Linked DNA regions of Homo sapiens: region 1 is linked to region 2. Evidence: fine-mapped expression QTL. Tissue or cell type: pancreas. Region 2 holds a variant in brackets; the other region holds the start of a gene. All regions are shown on one strand. Distances are between the middles of the regions.

The links. PIP is the estimated chance that this variant, and not a neighbour inherited with it, causes the effect.
Region 1: GIGYF1 starts here. The variant in region 2 is fine-mapped to the expression of GIGYF1 in pancreas (GTEx, PIP above 0.99).

What each region holds. Positions count from the first base shown.
Region 1 is chr7:100,690,585-100,698,584 of GRCh38, forward strand. GIGYF1 (GRB10 interacting GYF protein 1) reads right to left here and starts at 3,666. Exons shown (of 27, transcript NM_001375765.1): 1 at 3,526-3,666. RefSeq lists silencers at 1,163-1,332, 3,095-3,214, 3,385-3,484, 3,925-4,084, a cis regulatory region at 2,740-4,233 and an enhancer at 4,772-5,575.
Region 2 is chr7:100,665,022-100,673,021 of GRCh38, forward strand. It overlaps LOC105375429 (a long non-coding RNA gene), which reads left to right. Exons shown (of 3, transcript NR_133946.1): 3 at 1,081-1,405. Among named protein-coding and RNA genes, the nearest start is that of GNB2, 4.7 kb to the right of the region's middle. The variant T/C (reference allele first, on the strand shown) is at 3,437.

The DNA of each region.
Region 1 (8,000 bases), 26 kb after region 2:
CAGCCTGGCCAACGTGGCAAAACCCTGTCTCTACTAAAAATACAAAAATTAGCCAGTCCTGGTGGTAGGTGCCTCTAATCCCAGCTACTCGGGAGGCTGAGGCAGGAGAATCGCTTGAACCCAGGAGGCGGAGGTTGCAGTGAGCTGAGATTGCGCCCCTGCACTCCAGCCTGGGCAACAGAGCAAGACTCTGTCTCAAAAAAAAAAAAAAAAAAAAATTTAAAGCGATGGCCTCACACTGCCCCCTGCCAGGCGCAGCAAGGGCAGCTCTCCTAGGTGCCTCCGGCTCAAGTCACCCATCCTGGCTGTGTCTTGGCTGCAAGGGGCACACAAAGGGGGAATGGTTCATGCAGACTGAGGACAGCGACACCAAGACAGGGGAGAGAGCAGGCCCAGAGCAGGAAAAAGCCCATGCCACCCGCCTTCTTGGGAAGAAACCAGGAGAGTGAGGTTAACTCTCTAGGCACCCCCACAGCAGGGTCTGGTGCCGGAAGCTGATGGTGCCTGGCCCCTTCCTTGGACTAAAGGAACTAGTGGCACACCTGCAGGCCACCATGGGGCTCCCACCCTCCAACAGGTTCTGGACTGGGGGCACCTCTGCTCCTCAGGGGGCTCTTGGCCAAGTCTAGAGACATTCTGGGTTGTCACCACTGGGCAGGGGGTGCACAGGGCAGCCCCACAGCCAAGAGCTATGTGACTCCAGATACCAAGTGCGCCAGTGCTGAGACACCCTCCTCTGCGCCACGAGCATGGGCACAGCCCTTGGGGGTCTACTGGGCCAAGGGGAAGGCAAGGGAAGGCAGGTGTGTGCACGCTGGGTCATTCTCCTCTCTGAACAGCAGGGACATCATTCCCTAATTACACTGTCCCACGAGGGAAATCTGAAATCCTGCCAGGAGAAAATCTTTGAGAAAAGAATAGATTTTTTTTTTTTAAGAAAAACTGCCTAAGTTTGTCTATTGCAAGCTCTCAGGGCCAGGTATCTGATCCCTGTCCAATGAAGGTAAGAGCAGGAGGTGGCGGGGGCTGGGGTACTGCCACCTGCCCGTCTCAGCTTACCCGGCTGAGCTTTCTCAGCTCAGGGTCTCCTTCTCACAGGCCCCTTCCAGCCTGTCCCCCGCCCTGGCCCTGCCCTCAAGCCTCGGCCTACTTCGGCTCCTCGCCCCTTCCCCACCCCTTCTCTTTCTCGGGCCTGTCTACCCTCACTCCCCCAGCATCTGAATCAATGCTTTTGAAAGACTGCCCCCTGCCGGAGACAAGGGGCGAGGACACGCTGGGCCCGGGTGCTCCAGTAGGCGCCAGGGCGCGCGGGAAAGGGAGCCTGCTCTCTGGGGCTCAGAACTCAAGAGAGAAAGAAAAGACAGAGAACAGGCGGTCCCAGTGCACATTCAGCTAAGAACATTATCTCCTCACTCCATCACCCCTAAAATTAGCTCCAACACAGAGCACTGTGCCTTGGCACAGAACAGAGCCACTTAAACAGAAGCACAGTCCCCAATTCCTCAACACTGGAACAACCGCCCAGCCCCAGGCCTGCTGGAGGGGACCTGGCCCTTTCTCAGGATGGAGATTCTCCAAGCGTGGTAGGGTGAGGACGCTGAGGCTTAAAAAAGAGATGCAAACCCGCATTCTTCGCGGCTGGTCGGTTATCCCAGCTCTCTCCTCTCTGAGCCATCCCAGCAAATCACACCACCGCTTGGCAATTGTCTACAAGTTAACAGTTTTCAAAGGATTTTCACTCTTTACCTCCTGTGATCCCTTTTGCCCACTTGCCCAGCCTTGGGCTCCAGCCAGGGAAAAGAAGGAGGAAGCTGCTCCGACAGCGTGCCCCGACATCCTTGACACTATGCAAGACTGGAGGTGCGCACGGTAGCAGTAACCATCCCAAACTCGCAAGCATTATTCTGTGAGTTTGAAGCCATTTTACATTTGTTAGACTTTCAACATCCTTCATCTAGCCTCCTCCTCTCATCTTCTCTCCTCTAAAGTGGGCTATTTTTCTTTAATTCCCAAATTCCAATAGCAGATGTAAAAGTTAGGGCTAACGCATCAGATCACGAACACAAGACTGATGTGTCCAACAGCAGAAAAAGCTAGTCCAGAAGTTTAAGCACATGGTCCACTTGACTAACCACCACGTGGGACCCTCAGGGCCCCTGGTCCCCAGGCAATGGCAGGGACACCAAGGCCAGGTCTACCCTCAAATCCTTCCCAATGGCACGACAGACCGCTGGGGGACCAAGACCTACAATCTAAGAAAATCAGATTGGAGCTGGCTAGCCTGGTGGAGGGTGGCTAGCCTAGGTCTGCAAAGGGCACAGGAAAGATGGGAAGGAGAAAGAACCCCAAATCCCCCATGTCGGCAGCAAAGGAGAGACCCTTACTGGTACCACCGATGGTGTTTCCATGCCAAAGGCGAGGGGTTGGCGGGGTTCTAAATTGAAACTTCTATATAGACTCGAAGAGGCAGTGCACAAGAGGGTGGGAAAGCTGACGATCTTCCAGAACGACACTTTGAGAGGCAGGAGGGAAGTAAGGCTTGGGTGGCTGGAAAAAAAAAATCCAATCCAGCTAACAAGTCTTTATGTAGCATCTCCTAGTTCCTAGCACTAGGATGCAACAGACCTGGAGTCTGACCGGGAATGCGAGTAATGACTGTATAACAGAGAAGAGAGACGAGGGGCTTTTAAAAAGTTACTCGGAAATTTTTTTGTTTTTTTTTTTTTTTAAGGCAAAGTGTGAGAGCTGTGGCCAGGGAGCTGCTGCACGGAGGGGCATGAGCTGAGAAGGGCCTGGCCTGGGACGGGGAGGACAAGCAGTCTCTGCTAAGGAAGGTATTTCCCGCGGCCGAGCAACTGGGAAGAAGGAGACCCCAATGACCCAGCACTAAGATCGCCGGAGCGAAAGGAAACAGAGGTGAGGAGGACCCAGGCGAGGTGCCTGGGTGGAGGGCAAGGCTTCCATGTTGGCCAAAGTCGTGGAACGCTTGGACCTGGGGAACCGCAAGGCCCAGCTCGTTCCGAGGGGAACCCAAAGGCGCGCTGGGGAGAACTCCGGGAAGCGCGGGGCCCGGCCACCCTAGGACGCTAGGGTCGGGGGCCCCCAGGCGGCCCAGGGCAGGGCTTGGCAGGGGCCCGGGGGCGACCGTTAGGAGCGCGGGGGTGGAAGGCAGCGCGCCGGCCCGGGAGGACGGCGTGCCCTTCAGGGAGGGGCGCCAGGTGCGAGGGGGGCGAGCGGTCGCCCCCTAAGCCGGGCGCCGGCCTCCCGGGGCCTCCCCGAGGCTGGCCGGCTCTGGGGGAGGGTCCCGGCGGCGGGGATGGGCCGGAGCGGGCGGGAGAGCGGGAGGACGCACCGGGCTGCGGCGGCCTCGGGGAGGAGACGGGGGAGGGTCCTCGCTGGCGGCCCGCGCGCTGGCTCCGGCGCTTCTCTAGCTCGCGGGCTCGGCGCGGCCGCCGCGGCGTCGGGGGCGGGCCTGCCCCGGGGCTGGGCTGCGGGCCGGGGGCCGCGGGGCCACTGGGCGCTTACCGCGGGCGGCGCGAGGGTCCGGTCCCGGGGCGTGGGCGGCGCGCGGCGGGCGGGGGCCGGGGACGGCGACGGCGGCTAGCAGCGGGGGAGGGGGCGCTGGCGCTCCCGCGGCGGCCGCTCCTCTGTGTTTGTGTTTGTAGCAAGATGGCTGCCCGCCTCGCACCACGTGACGCGGACGCGGGGCCGCGGGGCCGCCCCTTCCACCGCCGCCGCCGCCGCCGCCGCCGCCGCCGCCGCCGCCGCCGCCGCCGCCGCCGCCGCCGCCGCCGCCGCCTCCCTCCGCGGCTCCGGCCCGCGCCACCTCTCCTCGTGCGCTGCTCGCGTGCCGCGCGCGCCACTGCCCGGACGCCCGTCGCCCCCGACAGCCCCCCCCCTCCCCGCCCCGACACGTGACCTGGGCGCCCGGCTGGTCACGTGACGGGGGCCCCCAGCTGCGGGCGGGATCGGCCCCAGAGCGGCCTCCTCTCCCCCACCTCCCCCGGCCCCGCGACGCGCGACCTCTGGGACCGAGGCCGCGGCCTCCCTGGCGGTCCGGTTTCCTCCAGGAAGCCCGCCTGGATGACAGGAGACAATAAAATCCAGAACCCTTCATCAGGCGTCCTGGGATGTGTGAAATAAGTGGCTCAGGCAAATAAGTTGACTCTCAGGAGCCTCTTTATTTTTTTAATTATTTATTTAATTATTGAGACAGAGTGTTGCTCTGTCCCCCAGGTTGCAGTCCAGTGGCGCGATCTCGGCTCACTGCAGCCTCCGCCTCCCGGATTCAAGTGATTCTCATGCCTTGGCCTCCCGAGTAGCTGAGATTACAAGCACACACCACCACGTTTGGCTTATTTTTGTTGGCCAGGCTGGTCTAGAACTCCTGACCACTCAAGTGATCCGCCTGTCTCGCCCTCCCAAAGTGCTGGGATTACAGGCGTGAGCCACCGCGCCCGGCCCCTATTTATTTATTTTTTTGAAGCAGGGTCTCACTCTGTTGCCCCAGCTGCAGTGTACTAGCCCGATCTCGGCTTACGGCAGCCTCCAACTCCCGTGTCTCAAGCGATCCTCCCATCTCAGCCTCCTGAATTGTTGGGACTATAGGTGTGCACCATCACACCCAGATAACTTTTTTATTCTCTGTAAAGACTGGGCGGGTGGCGTGTCTCATAACATTGCCCAGGCTGGTCTTGAACTCCTGGTCTCAAGGGATCCTCCTGCCACAGCCTCTTGAGTAGCTGGGACTACAGCTGTGTGCCACCACACCCAACTAATTTTTTTAATTTATTGTATTTGTTGTTTGTTTGTTTTCCAAGACAGAGTCTTGCTCTGTCGCCCAGGCTGGAGTGCAGTGGCGCGATCACGGTTAACTGCATCCTGCGCCTCCTGGGCTCAAGCAATCCTCCTGCCTCAAGCACCCTGAGTAGCTAGGACTACCAGGGCACACCACCACGCCCAGCTTTTTTTTTTTTTTTTTTTTTTTTTTTGTAGAGACAGGGTTTCCCCCATGTTGCCCAGGCTGGTCTTGAACTCCTGGACCCAAATGATCCTCCTTCCAAAGTGCCGGGAACTCCTGGACCCAAATGGATCCTCCTTCCAAGGTGCCGGGATGACAGGCATGAGCCGCCACGCCTGGCCTCTCAAAAGCCTCCGTTTCTCTTACAGAAGGATGTTAACACTGCTCTGCACCCAACCCCCGACCCCCAACTCCACACTCTTCCTTGAGTGCTGTAAGAATTAAAATAAGTGAATGTGAAAGGCTTTGACAAGAGAGAAACTGCTATGCAAATGTGAGGTGACTGAAACCCCCTTTGTTTAAAAAAAGGACTTTTCAAGAATGACTCGCTGAACTTTTTCAAGGCTCAAAAGTTCCGCGTATGCTTTCACCTTTTTCTTTGGAAGTTACTCCAGAATGTATACCTTACTTCCCAGAAGCCTAAAAGAGCTGTCGCCCAACACAATGTAATCCTCAAAACAAGGAAAAGGTAAGTTCATGACTTGGAATTTGAGTGCCTGGTGTCTTGCCATGATAGAGTGTTGACTTCAGGAACTATTATACCTGGAACAACTTTTGTTTCCCCCACCAAGTACCACTAGGCTTCTCTGCACTTGGAGTTTTCCTGTCTGTTTTCCTTTTTTAACTATTTTATTTATTTAAGAGACAGGGTCTTGCTCTGCTGCCCAGCCTGGAGTGCAGTGGCACAATCAGCTCACTGCAGCATCGACCTCCTAGGCTTAAGTGATCCTCCCTCCTCAGCCTCCCGAGTAGCTGGGATTGCAGGGAGTGGCACACCACCATACCCGGGTATTATTTATTATTTATTTTTTTTTTGAGAAAGAGTCTCACCCTGTTGCCCAGGCTGGAGTGCAGTGGCGTGATCTCAGCTCACTGCAACCTCCGACCCCAGGTTCAAGCAGTTCTCGTGCCTCAGCCTCCCAAGTAGCTGGGATTACAGGTGTGTGCTACCATGCCTGGCTAATTTTTGTATTTTTAGTAGAGACAGGGTTTCACCATGTTGGCCAGGCTGGTCTCGAACTCCTGAACTCAGGTGATCTACCTGCCTCAGCCTCCAAAAGTGCTGGGATTACAGGCACGAGCTACTGTGCCTGGCCCAGCTATTATTTTTTACTTTTAAATTTTTGTACAGACTGAAGTATCACTATGTTGCCTGGGCTGTTCTCGAACTCCTGGGCTCAAGCAGTCCTTCCATATTGGCCTCCCAAAGTGTTGGGATTACAGGCATGAGCCACTGTGCCTGTCCTGCTGTCTGTTTTTATATTTTATTTAATATTTTAATTTTTTTCGAGACGGAGTTTCGCTCTGTCGCCCAGGCTGGAGTACAGTGGCGTGATCTCAGCTCACTGCAACCTCCACCTCCTGGGTTCAAGTGATCCTCCCACCTTAGTCTCCTGAGTAGCTGAGACTACAGACAGGCGCCACCATGCCCAGCTAATTTTTGTATTTTTGGTAGAGATGGAGTTTCACCGTTTTGGCCAGGCTGGTCTCAAATTCCTGGCCTCAAGTGATCCTCCCGCCTTGGCCTCCCAAAGTGTTGGGATTACAGGCGTGAGCCACCGTGCCCTGCCAGCTAGCTTCCTTTCTCAAAGAGGGAGTTTATAGGCTTTAATTTCTGCTGACTTCAGCATCAGTGTTCACACTTTACAGTTGGTGGGGATTACTTGTCCAAAGTCACACATTGGTGTCCAGGAGATCCAGGGAGACCCCTCTGGTCTTCCACCGTGATTGTATTAGTCAGTTCTCATGCTGCTAATAAACCTTGTCCTTCCTTGAGCCCAGAAGCCTGGGCAACAAAATGAGTTCTTGACTCAAAAAGAGAGAAAAGTGAAAAAATATAATAAAAAACAAAAAAGAACTGTGAGTCTCCCATGAAGAATTTAAAAATTACAAAGAAATCACTTGGACCTAATTGGCCGGGCATGGTGGCTCACACCTGTAATCCCAGCACTTTGGGAGGCTGAGGCAGGTGGATCACCTGAGGTTGGGAGTTCAAGACCAGCCTGACCAACATGGAGAAACCCCGTCTCTACTAAAAATACAAAATTAGCCAGGCGTGGTGGCACGTACCTGTAATCTCAGCTACTAGGGAGGCTGAGGCAGGAGAATCGCTTGAACCTAGGAGGCGGAGGTTGCGGTGAGCAGAGATCACGCCATTGGACTCCAGCCTGGGCAACAAGAGCGAAACTCCATCTCAAAATAAAGAAATCATTTGGAGCTAATGTGTTTTTGTTTGTTCAGGTGCTGCTCTGTAAAATGTCTTGGTCTGTGTTCTAAATTTGCAAACTTTTTAACTAAACAAAGAGATTTGTTTGGAAGGTTAATGGAGATGAAAGAGTGGTCTCACGCAGACCAAACAGCCAGCCTCTGCCTTTCTTTTCTTTTTCTTTTCTTTTTTTTTTTTTTTTTTTTGAGACAGAGTCTTGCTGTGTTGCTCAGGCTGGAGTGCAGTGGTGCAACCTCCGCTCCTCCGGGTTCAAGCGTCTTGTATTTTTAGTAGAGATGGGTTTTGCCATGTTGGTCAGGCTGATCTCAAACTCCTGACCTCAGGTGATCTGCCTGCCTCAGCCTTCCAAAGTGCTGAGATTACAGGCGTGAACCACCGTTCCTGGCCCTTTTTCTTTCTTTCTTTTCTTTGAAACGGAGTCTCCCTCTGATGCCCAGGCTGTAGTGCAGTGGCACGATCTTGGCTCACTGCAAGCTCCGCCTCCCGGGTTCATGCCATTCTTCTGCCTCAGCCTCCCGAGTAGCTGGGACTACAGGCACCCACCACCACGCCTGGCCAATTTTTTGTATTTCTAGTAGAGACGGGGTTTCACCGTGTTAGCCAGGATGGTCTCGATCCCCTGACCTCGTGATCCACCTGCCTTGGCCTCTTAAAGTGCTGGAATTACAGGCATGAGCCACCACGCCCGCCCCGCCCCCACTTTTTTTTTTTTAATGGCAGATTCCTCTTCAGTGTTTTCCTTTGATGAAATGT
Region 2 (8,000 bases):
TTCGAGACCAGTCTGGCCAACATGGTGAAATGCCGTCTCTGCTAAAAATACAAAACTTAGCCGGGTGTGGTGGCACACACCTGTAATCCCAGCTACTCAGGGGCTGAGACAGGAGAATCACTTGAACCCAGGAGGCGGAGGTTGCAGTGAGGTGAGATCGCACCACTGCACTCCAGCCTGGATGACAGAGCGAGACTCCCTCTCAAAAAAAACAAAAACAAAAAGAAAACAAAAGGAAAAAAAAGATGGCAGAGATGTCCCCACAGTCCTGGAGTATCTATTTTGAGGTTAAGTCACTGAATTTTGGGGAATTCTTTGTTATAGCCGCTTCGCCTATACCCTAACTGACCATCCTTTGGATATGGGGAGGGAAGGCATGGGAAATATCTGAGTGGGTGCTGGTGCTGTCAACTGGGCCAGGATATTCAGGGAAGGGGTAAGGTTGGGCAGGGTTGGGCTCAGGGGAAGATGATTAACTTAGTTTTGAATATGTTGAATGTGAAATGTCTGTGAACAGTGGTGTGTAGTAAATGGTTTTTTGTTTGTTTGTTTTGAGACAGGGTGTTGCTCTGTCACTCAGGCTGGAGTGCAGTGGTGCGATCATAGCTTACTGCAGCCTCCAACTTCTGGGCTCAAGCAGTCCTCTCACCTCAGCCTCCTGAGTTGCTGGGACTACAGGCATGCCACCAAACCTGGATAATTTTTAATCTTTTTTTTGAAGATGGGGTCTCGCTGTGTTGCCCAGGCTAGTCTCAAACTCCTGGTGGTGAGCCACCATTCCTAACAACCAGCTCTTCAAAAAGGGGGAGCCCTGATCGGAAGCATTTGCCAATGTCCATGACGTAAACAGTCACACCTTGGCTGAGTTCAAGTTCCTACTATCTTATTTTATTTTATTTTATTTTTTTTGAGATGGAGTTTCGCTCTTGTCACTCAGGCTAGAGTGCAATGGCGCTATCTCGGCTTACTGCAACCTCCACCTCTTGGGGTCAAGCGGTTCTCCTGCCTTAGCCTCTTGAGTAGCTGGGATTACAGACACCCGCCACCACGCCCAGCTAATTTTTTTGTATTTTTTAGTAGAGACGGAGTTTCACCATGTTGACCTCAGGTGATCCACCTACCTGGGCCTCCTAAACTGCCGGGATTACAGGCGTGAGCCACCGCGCCCAGCTCTTCAAGTTTCTGCTACCAAGATGCCTTCACTGAATAAGGAGCTGGGTGTACAATGGGCACTCGTGACCTGGCATGAGCGGATGCCAGCATGCCACTGTCCACGGGCATCTAAGTGGGGATATTCAGTCAGCCATTGGATGTACACCAAGTCGGCACACGGGGAAGAGACATCTGGGCTGGAGACAGTAATGGATGAAGTCACCAATGAATAACATGGAGAGTGAGCAGAGGAGGCCAAAGTCAGTATTCTGGGAAAAACAATGTTTGCAGAGTGCCCTGAGGAGGAGGAGATGCTAAGAAGCCAGAAGAGGTAGAGGAAGGAGGCCCTGTGACCCATCAGAGCCACATCCGCCACTTGCTCTCGAGGGTCCTGCCTGCTCAGATAAGTTGGCTACTCATTGGTCATCACCTGGCAACTCTGTCCTTCCTTGCATCTGGCCAACTTCTTTTTCCTCTCTCTTTCCTCCTGCCCTCCTCATTACCATCTAAATTAGCTCCAGTAGCTCTCATCAAAACTCAAATAACGGCCAGGCGCGGCGGCTCATGCCTCTAATCCAAGCACTTTGGGAGGCTGAGGCGACTGGATCACCTGAGGTCCGGAGTTTGAGACCAGCCTGGCCAACATGGTGAAACCCTGTCTCTACTAAAAATATCAAAATGAGTTGGGCGTGGTGGCACATGCCTGTAATCCCAGCTACTTGGGAGGCTGAGGCAGGAGAATTGCTTGAACCTGGGAAGTGAAAGTTGCAGTGAACCGAGATCGCAGCACCACTGCACTCCAGCCTGAGTGACAGAGCAAGACTCTGTTTCAAAAGGAAAAAAAAAAAAATATATATATATATATATGTAATTTTTCTGTAGAGACAGGGTTTCTACAATTTTTTTTGTAGAGATGAGATCTTGCTGTGTTGTGCAAGCTGGCCTCAAGCGATCCTCTTGCCTCAGCCTCCCAAAATGCTAGGATGACAGGCACGAGCCACCACGCCCAGCCTAAAAAATATACATATCTTTTTTTTTTTTTTTAGATGGAGTTTCGCTCTTGTCGCCCAGGCTGGAGTGCAGTGGTGCAATCTCGACTCCCTGTAATCTGAGTTCCAGCAATTCTCCCGCCTCCCTCCTGAGTAGCTGGGATTACAGGCACACGCCACCATGCCTGGCTAATTTTTTGTATTTTTAGTAGAGATGAGGTTTCACCATGTTGCCCAGGCTGGTCTCGAACTCCTGACCTCAAGCGATCCTCCTGCCTCAGCCTCCCAAAAACGTTGGGATGACAGGCATGAGCCACCGCGCCCGGCCTAAAAAACCCCGACTATCTTGATTCCACTTCCTCTTCTCACTGCTGCACCAGCTTTGTACATGGTCCCCGGCCAAGCTGAGATACCCAAAGTCTGGTCCACGTTGTTTTTCTCCACTGCATCATTTCTCACTCACCCATTGCAAATGCCGTAGGCAGAGCTACAGTGGCTTCTACCCAATCCACTGCACACTTCTCAGGGCAGGCTTGCTTCATGTCTCTGCAGCCTTCAGCACAGTTTCCCATTCCTTTTTTGGAACACTCTTTTCTTTTGGGTTCCAGAAGTCCGCATCCTCCTGATTTTCTTCTTAGTTCGCCGGCTTCTCCTTTGGCAACTTGTTCTCCACCTGACCTCTAAATGTCGGAGTTCCTCAGAGCTTGGTCTTAGGCCATCTTGTCTTTTCCCTGCACCTCTTTATGACGTCATCTGCTAGAATGTGCCACTCACTCTTGGGGCTCTATTCCAACCCAGATTTCTCTGCTGAATTCCAGGACTGTGTCTACAGCCACCTATTAAACATTTCTCCTGGATTTCTCAAAGAACTAAAAATAGAACTACAGTTTGACCCAGCAATCTCATTACTGGGTATTTACCCAAAAGAAAAAAAATCCTTCTACCAGAAAGAAATATGCACTCGTATGTTCCTTGCAGCACTATTCACAAGAGCAAAGACATGAACTCAGCTTAGGTGCCCATCAATGGTGGACTGGATAAAGAAAATGGTACATGTATGTTATGGAATACTATGCAGCCATAAAAAGAAACAAAATGAAGAAACAAAGAAACATGTTTTTTGCAGCAACATGGATGCAGCTGGAGTCCATTCTCTTAAGTGAATTTAGAGCAGGAACAGAAAACCAAATACCATATGTTCTCACTTGTAAACAGGAGCTAAACATTGGGTACTCATGGACATAAAGACGGCATCAATAGACACTGGGGACCACTAGGGGGAAGAAGGAAGAAGA[T/C]GGGGCAAGGGTTGAAAACTATTAATACCTAATGGGGCCAGGCATGGTGGCTCACGCCTGTAATCCCAGCACTTTGGGAGGCCAAGGCAGGTAGATCACTTGAGGCCAGGAGTTCAAGACCAGCCTGGCTATCATGGCGAAACCCCATCTCTACTTAAAATACAAAAATTAGCCAGGTGTGGTGGTGCACACCTGTAATCCTAGCTACTTGGGAGGCTGAGGCAGACGAACCACTTGAACCCAGGAGGCGGAGGTTGCAGTGAGCTGAGATCGTGCCATTGCACTCCAGCCTGGGCAACAGAGCAAGACCCTGTCTCAAAGAAAAAAAGAAAAAGAAAAACTACCTATTGGGTACCGTGCTCATTACATGGGTGATGGGATCAATCGTATTCCAAACCTCAGTGTCACACAATTTACCCATATAACAAACCTGCACACGTACCCCGTGAATCTAAAATAAAAGTTAAAAAAAACAAAAAAAGAGGCCGGGCACAGTGGCTCACGCCTGTAATCCCAGCACTTTGGGAGGCTGAGGCAGGTGGATCACGAGGTAAGGAGATCGAGACCATCCTTGCTAACACGGTGAAACCCCGTCTCTACTAAAAATACAAAAAATTAGCCGGGCCTGGTGGCACGTATCTGTAGTCGCAGCTACTCAGGAGGCTGAGGCAGGAAAATCACTTGAACCCAGGAGGCAGAGGTTGCAGTGGGCCGAGATTGCGCCACTGCACTACAGCCTGGGCGACAGAGCGAGATCCGGCTGAGTGCGGTGGCTCACACCGGTAATCCCAGCACTTTGGGAGGCTGAGGCTGGCGGATCGCTTGAGGCCAGGAGTTCGAGACCAGCCTGGGCAACATGACAAAACCCTGTCTCTACAAAAAAAAATACAAAAAATTAGCCAGGCATGGTGGTGTGCACCAGTAGTTCCATCTACTGGGGAGGCTGAGGTGAGAGGATCATCTCAGCCCAGGAGGTCGAGGCTGCAGCAAGCTGTGATTGCGCCACTGCACTCCAGTCTTGGTGACAGAGTGAGACCCTGTCTCAAAAAAAACAAAACCAAAAACACCAAAAAAAATTTTCTCCATAGGCACTTCAAACCTAAAACTTCCCAATCTTAAACTCTTGATCTTCCTCCCAGAATATGTTCCATCTCAAATGTTCTGCTCGAAGTAAACAATACCTCCAGGCCAAGCACTGTTATTTTTTCATTTTTGTTTGTTTGTTTTGTTTTGTTTTGTTTTGAGACAGGGCCTGGCTCTGTCACCCAGGCTGGAGTGCGGTGGCAGAAATTCAGCTCACCACAACCTTTGCCTCAGGAGTTCAAGTCATCTTCCCACCTCAGCCTTCCGAGTAGCTGGGACTACAGGCGCACGCCACCATGTATTTCTTTCTTTCTCTCTCTTTTTTTTTTAACGACGTAGTCTTGCTATGTTGCCCAGGCTGGTCTTGAACTCCTGGACTCAAGTGATCCGCCCACCTCTGCCTCCCAAAATGCTGGGATTACAGGTGTGAGCCACCACGCCTGACCCTAATCCATATTTCAATGCCCATCTGCCTCCTCTATAGATTGCAAGCTCCATGAGGAGGGTGCACCTGTCATTCAAGGTTGCATCCTCATTGCCTAGGGCAGTGCCTGATACATCATCCGGTTCAGTAAATATCAACGGAATGAGTTAAAACAGGAAAGCTTATTAGCACAGAAACCAAAGCAGCACACATGCCCTCTTGAGATTGACAAAATTGTGCTGTAGTCCTGCGCTGCTTGTTGTTAAGTGACTTTAGGGAAGTCATCGTGGCCATCTACAGATTGAGGAAATCAACGTAATTATCTCTGAGGTCCCTCCCAAATTCTCATGTGTAGTTGACATCTGTTATCTATTGCTTATATGTCACTGAATTGGCAGGTATGCATAAATAGAATTTGCATCTAACTACGAATACGATTGTTTATATTTTCTTTAAAAAAATATTGGGCTTTTGTTTCTCATATTGAGAGCTCTGTTATGCCATTTTCGAATTTCTCCCAGATGTCCCCCCCGGCCCACCTTCAAACTCTGCTTCCTTAGACAGATTTGGCAATAGCTTTGTAAGTGATATGGACATAATTGCCTAAAATAATGAAAACCTACAGGATTCTTTTTTCATTTTCCCTTTGGCATGTTTACAATTCCCTGCCCCACCAGGCAGATCATTCTGTGTGTGTGAGTGTGTGTACCCATTACAAAGACAACTACTATGTTCATAACATATTCGATTTGGAAAAAACAATTGTAGGCTGGGCACGGTGGCTGACATCTGTAATCCCAGCACTTTGGGAGGCCGAGGCGGGCAGATCACGAGGTCAGGAGTTCAAGACCAACCTGGCCAACATGAAACCCCATCTCTGCTAAAAATGCAAAAATTAGCCAGGCCTGGTGGCATGCTCCTATAATCCCAGCTACTCGGGAGGCTGAGACAGGAGAATCGCTTGAACCCAAGAGGCAGAGGTTGCAGTAAGCCGAGATTGTGCCATTGCACTCCAGCTCTGGGTGACAGAGCAAGACTCCATTTCAGAAAAAAAAAAAAAAGAAAAAAGAAAAAACAATTGTTTTTGAAAAGTGATTTGTAATGTCTTTCACAGAGACTAAATGAAGAGTATGTTTTGATACTTTTTAAAATATAATTTCATCTTTTTAGATTCTGACTCATGTGCACATGAATGTACCCATGTACATGGGTATATCTTGTGATGCTGAAGTTTGGGGTACAATTGATCCCGTCACCTGGGGTACAGTACCCAATAGGTAGTTTTTCAACCCTTCCCCCCTCTAGTAATCCCCCGTGTCTATTGTTCCCATCTTTATGTTCATGAGTACCCAGTGTTTAGCTCCTACTTATAAGTGAGAACATGCAGTGTTTGGTTTTCTGTTCCTGCAGAAATTTATCCACTTAGGATAAAAGCCTCTAGCTGCATCCATGTTACTGCAAAGGACACGATTTCTTCTTCTTTTCTTTTCTTTTGTTTCTTCTTTCTTTCTTTCCCTTCCTTCCTTCTCTCTTTTCTTTCTCTTTCTCTCTCTCTCTCTTTTCTGCATCCATGTTGCTGCAAAGGACATGATTTCTTCTTTTTTCTCTCTTCCTTTCTCTTTCCTTTCTTTTTTTCTTTCCTTCCCTTCCTTCCCTCCTTTTCTTTCTTTTACTTTTTCTTCTTTTGTCTTTCTTTCTTCTTCTTGAGTCAAAGTCTTGCTCTGTTGCCCAGGCCGGAGTGCAGTGAGTGGTGTGATTTTGGCTCACTGCAACCTCCGCCTCCCGGGTTCAAGCAATTCTCCTGCCTCAGCCTCCTGAGTAGCTGGGATTACAGGTGTGTGCCACCACGCCCAGCTAATGTTTGTATTTTTAGCAGAGACGGGGTTTCACCATATTGGCCAGGCTTGTCTCAAACTCCTGACCTCAAGTGATCCACCCGCCTCGGCCTCTCACAGTGCTAGGATTACAGGCGTGAGCCCCATCTCGTTCTTTCTTATGGCTGCGTGTTTTGATACTTTCAAATTACAAGGACTCAGTGAAGGCTATTCGTTGCCTTGAACTTCCCAAAGCATTTCCACAATCGATGGGGTTCTCAGTAAGAATCCGGGACTTGGAGGGCAGATGCTGTCAACATCCCCATTTAACAGATGTGGAAACTGAGGCCTAGACCTACGTTCTTGTCCCTTTACAGGCAAGGTCCCTGGAGGAAGGGGTTCATCTAGAGGCTCATACAGATAAACTGGAATGTACAGTAAAGTTTTGGCTGCCTGGGTTCATATCTAAACTCTGCAGCCTCAGGTCTCTTTCCACTATTAGAAAATGGGGAGAAGGCTGGGCGCGGTGGCTCACGCCTGTAATCCCAGCACTTTGGGAGGCCGAGACGGGCACATCACCTGAGGTCAGGAGTTTGAGACCAGCCTGGCCGACATGGTGAAACCTCGTCTCTACTAAAAATACAAAAAAAAATTAGCTGGGCATGGTGGCGGGCGCCTGTAATCCCACCTACTCCAGAGGCTGAGGCAGGAGAATCGCCTGAACCCAGGAGGCGGAGGTTGCAGTGAGCCGAGATCATGCCACTGCACTTCAGCCTGGGCGACAGAGTGAGACCCTGTCTCCAAAAAAAAAAAAAAGAAAAGAAAAGAAAATGGGGAGAATGTTAGCACTTAATTTCCCAGTATTGTGAGACTTAACATATGTCAGCCTGGGCAGCATAGCAAGACCCCACCTCTACCAAAAATTTAAAAATTAGCTGGGCATGGTGGCTGGGGCACGCCTGTGGTCCCAGGTACTAGGGAGGCTGAGGCAGGAAGATCACTTGAGCCGAGGAGATTGAGGTGGCAGTGACCTACAATCGCGTCACTGTACTCCAATTAAAAAATAAGTGTCGGGCCAGGCGCGGTGGCTCACGCCTGTAATCCCAGCACTTTGGGAGGCCGAGACAGGCAGATCACGAGGTCAGGAGATGGAGACCATCCTGGCTAACACCGTGAAACCCCGTCTCTACTAAAAATACAAAAAATTAGCCGGGTGTGGTGGCACACGCCTGTAGTCCCAGCT